2 linked regions of the Homo sapiens genome follow. The protein of the gene in region 2 purifies or fractionates together with the protein of the main gene of each other region. This does not show direct contact. Each region holds a gene or a part of one and is shown on either strand. Other genes may lie near its edges.

Region 1 (4,881 bases), about 49 Mb from region 2:
TTTTTTGTATTTTTAGTAGAGATGGGGTTTCACCATCTTGGCCAGGCTGGTCTTGAACTCCTGACCTTGTGATACACCCACCTTGGCCTCCCAAAGTGCTGGGATTACAGGCGTGAGCCACCATGCCTGGCCAAATAATTTATGTATTTAATTAGTGCCTATGTTTTGTACAGAGCTGTGGTGTAAATACTATCAAAAGTGGAACAAGGATACAAAACTAGAATGAGGTACAGTCCCTGAAGACAAACATAAATAATCAGCAATAGCATTCATTATTCCTTCCACAGGTGTTTCTAAGAACAAGGACTGCAATTCGATGGTATATAACTCAGCACTAACCTTTGGTATGGGTGGCTATGTCACAGAGTTATTTAGAGAATTTGCTCAAGCTAAATGAAGACAAAGACTTTGTGGGTGGGGCAAAATCTAAGTTGGGAGTGAAGTAGAAGGAGGACAAATATTTAAGGCATTATCCTTTGGAACTCAGGTAAAATACCACTTTCTTAGAAAGGCCTTTCCTGATTTCCCTATCTAGAACACCAACTACCTTCTACTCCGTCATAGTACCCTGTTACCCCATTTATTTCCTTTTGAGGACATTTTTTCTTTTTTCTTTAAAAAAAAAAAAAAACACCTAACGTAGCTATTAAGGTAAGCCTGGCTGGAGCTAGAATGCCTTGGTTCAAATCTGAGCTTTGTCACTTTCTAGTTCTATAATCTTTAATAAATTACTTAACCTCTCTGTGGTGTAAATATTATAAAAAGTGGAACAAGGGCCGGACGTGTGGCTTACACCTGTAATTCCAGCACTTTGGGAGGCCAAGATGGGTGGATCACCTGAGGTTGGGAGTTCAAGATCAGCCTGGCCAACATGGTAAAACCCTGTCTCTACTAAAAATACAAAAATTAGCCAGGTGTGGTGGTGCATGCCTGTAATCCCAGCTACTCGGGAGGCTGAGGCACAAGAATCGCTTGAAGCCAGGAGGCAGAGGTTACAGTGAGCCAGTAAGGTGAGATTGCACCACTGCACTCCAGCCTGGGCGATGGAGCGAGACTGTCTCGAAAAAAAAAAAAAAAAAAAAAAAAGAAAGAAAAAAGTGAAACAAGTATACAGAACTAGCATGAGGGGAAGTCTCTGAAGACAAACATAAGTAATTAACAAAATCATTCATTTGTTCCTTCCACAGGTGTTTCCTCAGTTCCTCAATAAAACTTGCTCATCAAGCAAGAAATTTTTGTTGAAGAGCTGGCTTAGGTTGTAACTATGGGACTGAAAAGGAAAGGGTAGATATGAACTAAGTCAAAGGCAGAATCAATAGGTGATGACAAAGGAGAGGAACAGTAAAAGTAATTTCAAGGAGAGAAGAGGAAGACGAGAAAATTCTGGGGATAATGAAACAAAAAAGGCAACCAATTATAATTGGGTAAAGAAAGAGTGAAAAAGCAAAAATGATCCCAAAGTTTGTTGCTTGAGGGACATGATAGAAGCTAGTGGGCTAGCATTAGTTAACTACTCCAGTGCGAAAAGGAGGAGCTATGTCAAATTCATGTTTAAAATGAGTGGGCAGCAGGAACACAGTTGTAGATGATTTGTTTTTAGAGTGCTAGAGGGATGGGCCCTAACAAAAGAATGTTGAAGGCGGACAAGATTTGGGTGTCTGCTCATTGTGCGCCAGGGCTGAAGTCATGGGAAGAAACCCCGTGAGGCTCAAACGCTGACCTGTAGGGAGAAGGACAATTTTCTTTAACACTTACAATGATGTTCTTATTGTTGGTAAAAGGTGCTTAATACATTGCTATCAAATGCCTTTTGGGGGATGGGGCTTTTCAGAAAAAAAAAAAAGCACTCATTCAACCCAAGGAACTGTATAGTAAAGGGGTACGTTTCTCAATTTTAACTTACCATGTATCTTTGAAAGGTAGAATGATGTGTTCCAAGTTGCTTTTATAAGGGGAAGCTTGGGTCATCTCCTTCCTAGCAAGGACATCTTGCTATTCAACTCACAATTGTCACCACTCCTCTTGTTGACACGGTTTCATAGCACTCTTCGTTCCAGGCTAAAGTTTCCTGTCATGATTTTTGGGCATCCTTTTTGAAACAGTTAGACATTCTGACCTGGCAAGCTACTGAGACCTTTTAGGATAGCTGGACTGTAGATAGAAATCTTCCAGGGAAGTAGGTGTGGGCAGGATGTGTGGTTTCCCTGCCTCTCATTTGAAGACTGATTCAATTAATTTTTTCATGAACAGTCTCCTACAGTAAAAGTTGCATTCAGAGTGTTCTAAGAGAAACTGGAAGGGACAAGCTAGCTACTCATCTTCTTCAGTTTGAGTTGGGACTGGCGCACTATCTTTCTGAATGTCACAGAAATGCACAGCAGGGAAATTGTGCCACCAGCCCCCTCTGCTAATGGGACCTTGAGGACTCAAATTAGCCATAACAGTAACACACAGCAGAGCATGCACTTGTTTACCAGAGTAATCTGAATGATCAGGAAGATGCAATAACACATGTCTCAGCCTGGCTCTGAATGAGTACACAGCAGCCTGAACCTATGAAAGATATAACATTTCTAAACTTTTGGTGATATAACACATACACATTCTTTCTCTGACATTCCAGGCTAACCACTGTCTTAAGTTAAGGCTCTGCAAAACATCTGGGACATATGTTTCTGGAAAAAATTATAGCATCTTTTCTACAATTCTCTCTGGTCTGATCTTTGTTAAGCTCTGACCTGACAGAAGCCTCTGCAGCAGGATTACCTGTGGGGGCCCAGGGAAGCTGCCCCACAGCACAGAGAGGCATTCACTAAACGCAGTTCACTTTCCCTTACCATTCATTTACCTAGTGCCACTCAGGGAACAAAGTACAGAGCAGAGAAAGCCTTAAACAGCAATAAAATGCAGATGCTGTTGTCCCTGAAAAAATCACTTTCTTTCTAGAACAGTCAAGGCTTATTTCACCTCAGCCCCTGGTTGTATGATACTAATACGCTCTGATACTCCAGGGAAGCAACCAGTGACTGAGATTTGAGGATTAAAATCAAAGCACAATGAACTATCATTTGGCTGCCCCAGGCCCACTAAATCCAGACAGCAAAGTGTTCTCACCATTCTGAGACACCTTCGGCTACACATTTCTCCAGCCAAAAACCTAGGAAGATGTCCGGCTGACAGATGCGCCTGTTACATGATTCAGAGAAGACAGTTTTTTTGTTTTTTTTGCTTTTTTTTTTTAAAAAAAAAAAAAAGAAAAAAGGCTGGATCAGCCTCAGGATTTTAATCTTACATGATCGTGGATAATCATGTCTCTTTTCACAAAAATTCAATCACTTCACTAATCACTATTTATTAGATTTATATCATACTTATAAAGCAAAAGATTTAAGAGGAAAAAACCTATATATACTACAGGAGAGAATCTTCTCTTTTCTGTTTTTTATTTTGTTTTGTTTTTTTTTTTTTTGGCTGCTTTGTTAAAGAAGCAGAGGTTAGAGGGAAGGAAATGGAATTCCTGTTTTTGAGGAGCTCCTGGGCCAGGCACTGCACTAACTATTGTACTTCTATTCCAGTAGACATGGCACCACTAGAAACACAGTCTCAAGCAGGACCAGCGAAAGAATTCAGAGGGTCTAAAATATAAGTTCATTGTTTAAAAAAATATTCAGAAGTTCAAGAGAGTCACAGCAGAACATTAAACCAAGTGGAGGCCCTCTTCAGTGCAGAACTCTGTGTGACTGCACAGGCCACACACCCGTGAAACTGGCCCCACTAAGAAGTCAGGTTTACCTGAACTTGAATTCTGGCTTTGCTACTTACTACTCATGTGATCTTGGACAAGTCATCTGTAAAATGGGAATAATAACAGTCCCTACATCATTGAGTTTTGTTTTTTTTTTTTTTTTTTGAGACGAAGTTTCACTCTTGTCACCCAGGCTGGATGGAGTGCAATGGTGCAATCTCGGCTCACTGCAGCCTCTGCCTCCCGGGTTCAAGCGATTCTCCTGCCTCAGCCTCCCGAGTAGCTGGGATTACAGGCATGTGCCACCACGCCTGACTAATTTTTGTATTTTTAGTAGAGACAAGGTTTCACCATGTTGGTCAGGCTGGTGTCAAACTCCTGACCTCCAGTGATCCACCCGCCTTAGCCTCCCAAGGTGCTGGGATTACAGGTGTGAGCCGTCATGCCGGCCTAAACAAGAGATTTTAAAAGATACTCTGTATTAAGGCCAACTACTCAAAAAGCAAGACTGAAGTACAAAAAATGATACTGGTTTATGCTCAAGGTTCTGGAGGCTTGTGGAGTGCAAATTGTCATGAAGCCAATTTAATATAACTGCTTCCTTTATGCTGAAAGGATTCACTGGGGACATCACTGTTTCCATACAGGAAATAAAGCCTTTTGTATCTGAACCAAAACTCAGAAATACTTTTTTTCTCTCTTCTTTTACAATGCAGAATACTTTACAAAAAAAAAAAAAAAAAAAAAAAGCTGTAGGACAGGAAATATTACTAATCATACAAACTCTATATTTAGTTCTGTAAAAAAAATACTACTAAAACAGCCAGAAGAAAATTTGCAGGTAGTAATACATATTTTTATCTAGAAAAGAAATTTGGTTTACAGAGGCATAAACATTTAGTAGTTACGTTTATCAATGTTTGTTTCATAAGAGAAGCCTCAGTTTCTTCACTGAGTCATCTGTACATTTTTTATTCCTTACCATCAATAATTCTCAGGACTGTCAGACGCCTTTACAAGAAACATGTAGGGTTTTTTTCCCCCCAATTTGAGTACATACTACTGTTAACTGCAAAATTCTAAAGAAGTCAGTTGCCATTTGTCAAACAATTCGCCCAAGGTACACCGATTTGGGA
Region 2 (4,881 bases):
GTACTACTCTCCTTGTTTTCCTCTCCCCCTCCCACTGCTCCTTCTCCATCTCCTTCACAGTGGCTTTTTTTTTTTTTGCTTATCCCTAATAAATTGGGTTTCCCAGAGTTCACTTTCCAAGTGTTCTCATCCACTCCCATGGCTTCAGTGGCTACCTGTGCGCACATGATTTTCAAATACCCATGGCCAGCTCCAATCTGAGCTGCACCTCCACTGGGTACACATCTGCTAGTGGGACACCCCTTCCCACAAACCAGGCCCCACCCCCTGCCATCTGGGTTGCTCATGCCAGAGATATGGGCGTCATCTCCAAGACCTCTGTCTCCCTTGCCCCTTCTTCTACCCCTCAGCCATCATCCTAGAGCTTTGTCCTTTGTCCACTTTGTCCGTTTCTCCCTATCTCCACCACCATCTCCAGGATTTACGCCTCATGGCTCAGCTTCTCAAACATGCCCTATGCAATCTGTTTCTGGTTTTCTGAACGATATCAAGTTTCACTACTTCTGGCCCTTTATGCATGCTTTATAACTCCCCCACCAAGTGCAATTTCCCAGCTTCAGCTATTTCCTCCAGGAAGTATTCTCCAACCAGGCTGAGTTCAGGCTCCCATAACCTCCGTCCTAAGCCCAAACACACTGTGTTGTTATTATCTGCCTATCTGGCTTATCGGAGCTGAGATCCTTCAGGGCAGAGAAAGGCTTTGCTTACCTGCCACCCCAGCACCCATCATGGTATCCTAGACAATGAATGTTTGTCGAATGAATAAGGACTGTTGCTCTGATGAGAGGTAGGCCCTCCCTCCTTTCAGCTCCCCGTCATACAGAAGAATTTCCTCTGTACTGAATTTCCTTCTGTGGTAGGTAAACTTGGGTGGAGCCCTTCTATTTTCTGGGCCCCCAGTGCCTATAAAGGGTGGAGAATCATTCCTGGTAGCTTACTCTGCCCTGCCTGAAGCCTAGGCTAAAGCTTTGTAGGAGAGAGGGGGTGCCCCTAGCTTCTCCATCCCCTTTTTCACACACGCACCTGTATGGCAGCCTGGCTGCTGCTGGGACTAGGAATCAGCAGCATTTGGGGAGACCTTTGCATCCCACTCATAAGGGGACACATGCAGGACGAAGCCTGGGCATAGCAGTCTCCCATTCCCCAGCTTAGTCTCTACTCAGCTTGTGACCTGCTCCTATAGGGAGCCCCAAAGAGTCCACAATGTCCGTACTTACAAAGATGAGCAAATTGAAGAGGATCATCATGGTCTTAATGAAGCTGAAGCACTGCATGGTGGCTCCTGGGAGGTAGACATGTGCAAGTTAGGGCCTTGTTTCCCCTGGGCCCACCTGGGCTGGCCCTGGCTTCAGATATTCAGCCAGATATGCCAGACCCCAGGATCCTGAACCCATATCTCACCAAGCTTCTCCTGTACCTGGTCTGACACAGACCTTTTCCCAGTTTCTATCCTAACACCCTTACCCCTCTATACTACCCAGGACCTCCACCAGCACCTGACACTCTGAGATCCTAACACCCCAGGTTCCTCCACCTGCACACCCAGCCTGACTCCCACACTGCAGGTCACTCCATGCTCTTTCCTAGCACCTGTATATCCTGTGCTCCCCCCCACACTAACCCCAGACCCTCCCAGAACCCTCACTAGAGCCCCTCCAGCTCCCCAGACCTGTTTCCAGATCGATATCACTTCACAGGATAATCTGTATCCCTATCCCATTACCTGTTCAGGGCTCTTGGCAGTGAGTTCTGAAAGAGGGAACTGCTGAGGCTCCACAAAGGACAAAACAGCTCCCGGGTGTTGCCACTGAGTGGGCAGGCAGAGGGACGCCTGGCTCTCACACACCACTGCTCACCTGCAGGCAGGGTAGGCGCTTTAAAGCCTCCTTCTGCCCGCCTGCTGGCCCCACCCGTGGCCAGTTAGCCTCTCCTTGACCCTGCTGCCCCCTGCTGCCTGGAGACCGATCCCCACAACCACTGCCTCAGCAGGCCTCCACCTGGCAACACCAGCCCTGGGCAACGCCCCTCCTGATCTCAAGAAGAAGCAGCCCAGGGGTGGGGCAAGTGGCTTCCCAGAATGTCTGCGTGCCCTCCACCACAACAGTGTAATGTGCTTCTTACCCTGCATCTGCTGATACACTCATACATACCCTCTGTGCTCATGCTCACATGCACATGCATCTGCTCATGCTGCCATCCATATGTTCATACAGCAAGCACCCAGTTACATACATAAACATGTGCTAGTGTTCCTGAATGCATGTGTGTGTGTGCGTCCGTGCGCACACACGCACACTAAATTCTTTGTGGACTGACTCCCAGCAACTAACAAACAACAGAATAATATCTGATGTACGTACTTAAGTATCTCTTTCACTCACACACACACACAAACACACACACACACACACACACACTCCCTCTTTCTCTTTCTCTGTCTCTCACTCACTTTCAAGGAAATGACTGAGATTTGGCAGCTTCCGCTCTCTCCTGCGAGTAGCAAATAGTTCCTAATCCTCTTCCCTCCATGAAACCTCACATTCCCCATTTTTCCCCTCCCTTCATCTTTCCATCTCCTCTCCTTCCCCATCTTTTTCTTTTTCTCCTTCCCAGTCTTCTCTTAGCGCTCTGTGTACACCCCTTCTCTTTCTGCCAGTAGGTGGCACCATGGTCTCATGAAGGAGCCACCCCCAGTTCCAAGGCTCTGTGATCCCATCTTTGTTACTCCTAGTGGGGCTGCCTGACCGCTTCCTGCTCCAGCACGCCTGATGTAGAGGTGCGGGGGAAAAGTCCTGGCTTCTGGGTCATTCAGACCAGGTGCTGGAATCCTGGCTCTGTCGCTTATGAACTGTGTGACCCTGGGGACTTTTCTTAGACTTGGTTTTAAACTTCTCTTTCCTGGTCTTCTGTGTAACAGAATAGTTCTGGGCTTTTCAAATGAGATTTTCTTCCTGCTCTAGAAGGAAGGGACAGTAGGGAATGAGCACAGAGCAAGAAGGTCAAAGTCGAGAGAGTCACAGGCAGTGGGGCTATGAGATGGAGGAAGTTGATTTTTTTTTTTTTTTTTCTGAGACAGGGTCTTGCTCTGTTGCCCAGGTTGGAGTGTAGTGGCAACATCACAGCTCACTGCAGCCTTGACCTCCTGAGCTCAAATGATCCTCAGCCTCCCAAGTAGCTGGGACCACAGGTATTTGCCGGCACTCAAGCAAATTTTTTTTTTTTAAACAGATGAGGTCTTGCTATGCTATCCAGGCTGGTCTTGAACTGGGCTCAAGTAATCCTCTGCCTCAGCCTCCCAAAGTGATGGGATTACAGGCATCAGCCACTGTGCCTAGCTGAGGAAGTGGATTTCTAAGTTTGTTTTGTTTTTATAGTGAAAGGAGGCAGCTGAAGAGACAGAAGAGAGAGGGGCTAATAGTATTACAGACTACACTAATAATACTGATCTTATTTTAAATGTCTTGCATATATTAAGGCTTTTTTTCCTCTTCACAACCATCCCATGAGATAGACTTTCTGATCTCCATTTTTAAATATGGGGAAATAGAAGCACCAAAGGGTCAGGTACTTGCCATGATCACAAAGCCTGTAAGTGGCAGAGCCAGGATTCAATCCCAGTTAGTCTGGCACCAGAGTCTACATCTTAACCACCAAGCAGACTGTCTACACTGATGGAATCTCTAAAGAGGCAGACAAGGCTGGCTTCCATAAAGAGCAAGGGAAGAGGCCTTGGTCTGACCTGAGGAAGAGGAGGAGCAGGGGCAGGTCGGTTTATAGTTACAGTTGCTAGAAGTTGGTGGAAGCAAGGTCATATTTTAAGACTGAGGATGGCAAGAGTAGAGGCTGGAGGAGGGGATGGGGGAAAGATGAGGTTTGTGAGGGTGGTACTAAGGGTGCCACAGAGTCCTCCACAAACAGAAAGGAGGATGAAGTTGGGAAGGGGGCATTTGAGGAGCAGAGTAAGGGGGAAAGGAAGAAGGGACTGAGGAGTGGAAGGAGAAGGAGAAGGTCTATTTTTTTTTTTTTTGACAGAATCTCACTCTGTTGCCCAGGCTGGAATGCAGTGGCGCAATCTTGGCTCACTGCAACCTCCGCCTCCCAGTTTCAAGCGATTCTCCTGCCTCAGCCTCCTGAGTAGCTGGTATTATAGGTGCACACCACCACACCCAGCTAATTTTTGTATTTTTAGTAGAGACAGGGTTTCACCATGTTGACCAGGCTGCTCTCGAGCTCCTGACCTCAAGTCATCCACCCACCTCGGGCTCCCAAAGTGCTGGGATTACAGGCGTGAGCCACCGCACCTGGAACCTTTCTGTTTCATTCTCAGGAAGAATTGGGACCAGATTACATTCATCTATGGCCCTGGTGCTTGGCACATAAGAAGTTGTCAGTGAACATTTCCTGAGTGAATGAGTGCAGAATAATGAGAGTTAAGTGCTCTGGGTTTTGGATCTTGATCATCATGGATTTGCTTCCTGCCTGCCTCTAATTGTGTGACTTCACCTCACTGAGCCCCAGTTTCCTTATACAGTGGATCCTCCTTATTCACAGATTCCATACCTGTGAATTTGCCTGCTTACTGAAATTTATTTGTAATTCCCAAACCAGTACTTGTGGTACTTTTGCAGTCATTCATGGACATGAGCAGAAAGGCAAAAAATTTCAGCCGTCCAACACACGTATTTCCAGCTGAGGTCTGTTGAGCAAGAGGACTCTCTGTCTTCTTATTTCAGTTTTCATAGAGTAAACAAATGTGCTTTTTGGTGGTCTATTTAGTGACGCATATTCTCACATTTTTTGGTGTTTTTTGCTGGTGATTTTACTGTCTAAAATGGTCCCCAGTTGTAGTGCTGAAGTGCTCTCTAGTCTTTCTAAGTGCAA

What was found. The genes of interacting proteins can lie anywhere in the genome.
Region 1: the proteins of TSPAN1 (region 2) and ALG14 purify together in Homo sapiens (affinity purification with mass spectrometry; one large-scale study listed by BioGRID and IntAct). This does not show direct contact.

Annotation. Positions count from the first base shown.
Region 1 is NC_000001.11:94,978,229-94,983,109, forward strand, and holds part of ALG14 (UDP-N-acetylglucosamine transferase subunit ALG14), read right to left. Parts: coding exon 4,848-4,881; 3' UTR 1-4,847. UniProt on the Homo sapiens protein: Part of the UDP-N-acetylglucosamine transferase complex that operates in the biosynthetic pathway of dolichol-linked oligosaccharides, the glycan precursors employed in protein asparagine (N)-glycosylation.
Region 2 is NC_000001.11:46,177,501-46,182,381, reverse strand, and holds part of TSPAN1 (tetraspanin-1), read right to left. Parts: intron 4,724-4,881; exon of another isoform or gene 4,561-4,723; intron 2,957-4,560; exon of another isoform or gene 2,450-2,956; intron 1,857-2,449; 5' UTR 1,724-1,856; intron 1,283-1,723; 5' UTR 1,275-1,282; coding exon 1,218-1,274; intron 1-1,217. UniProt on the Homo sapiens protein: Structural component of specialized membrane microdomains known as tetraspanin-enriched microdomains (TERMs), which act as platforms for receptor clustering and signaling.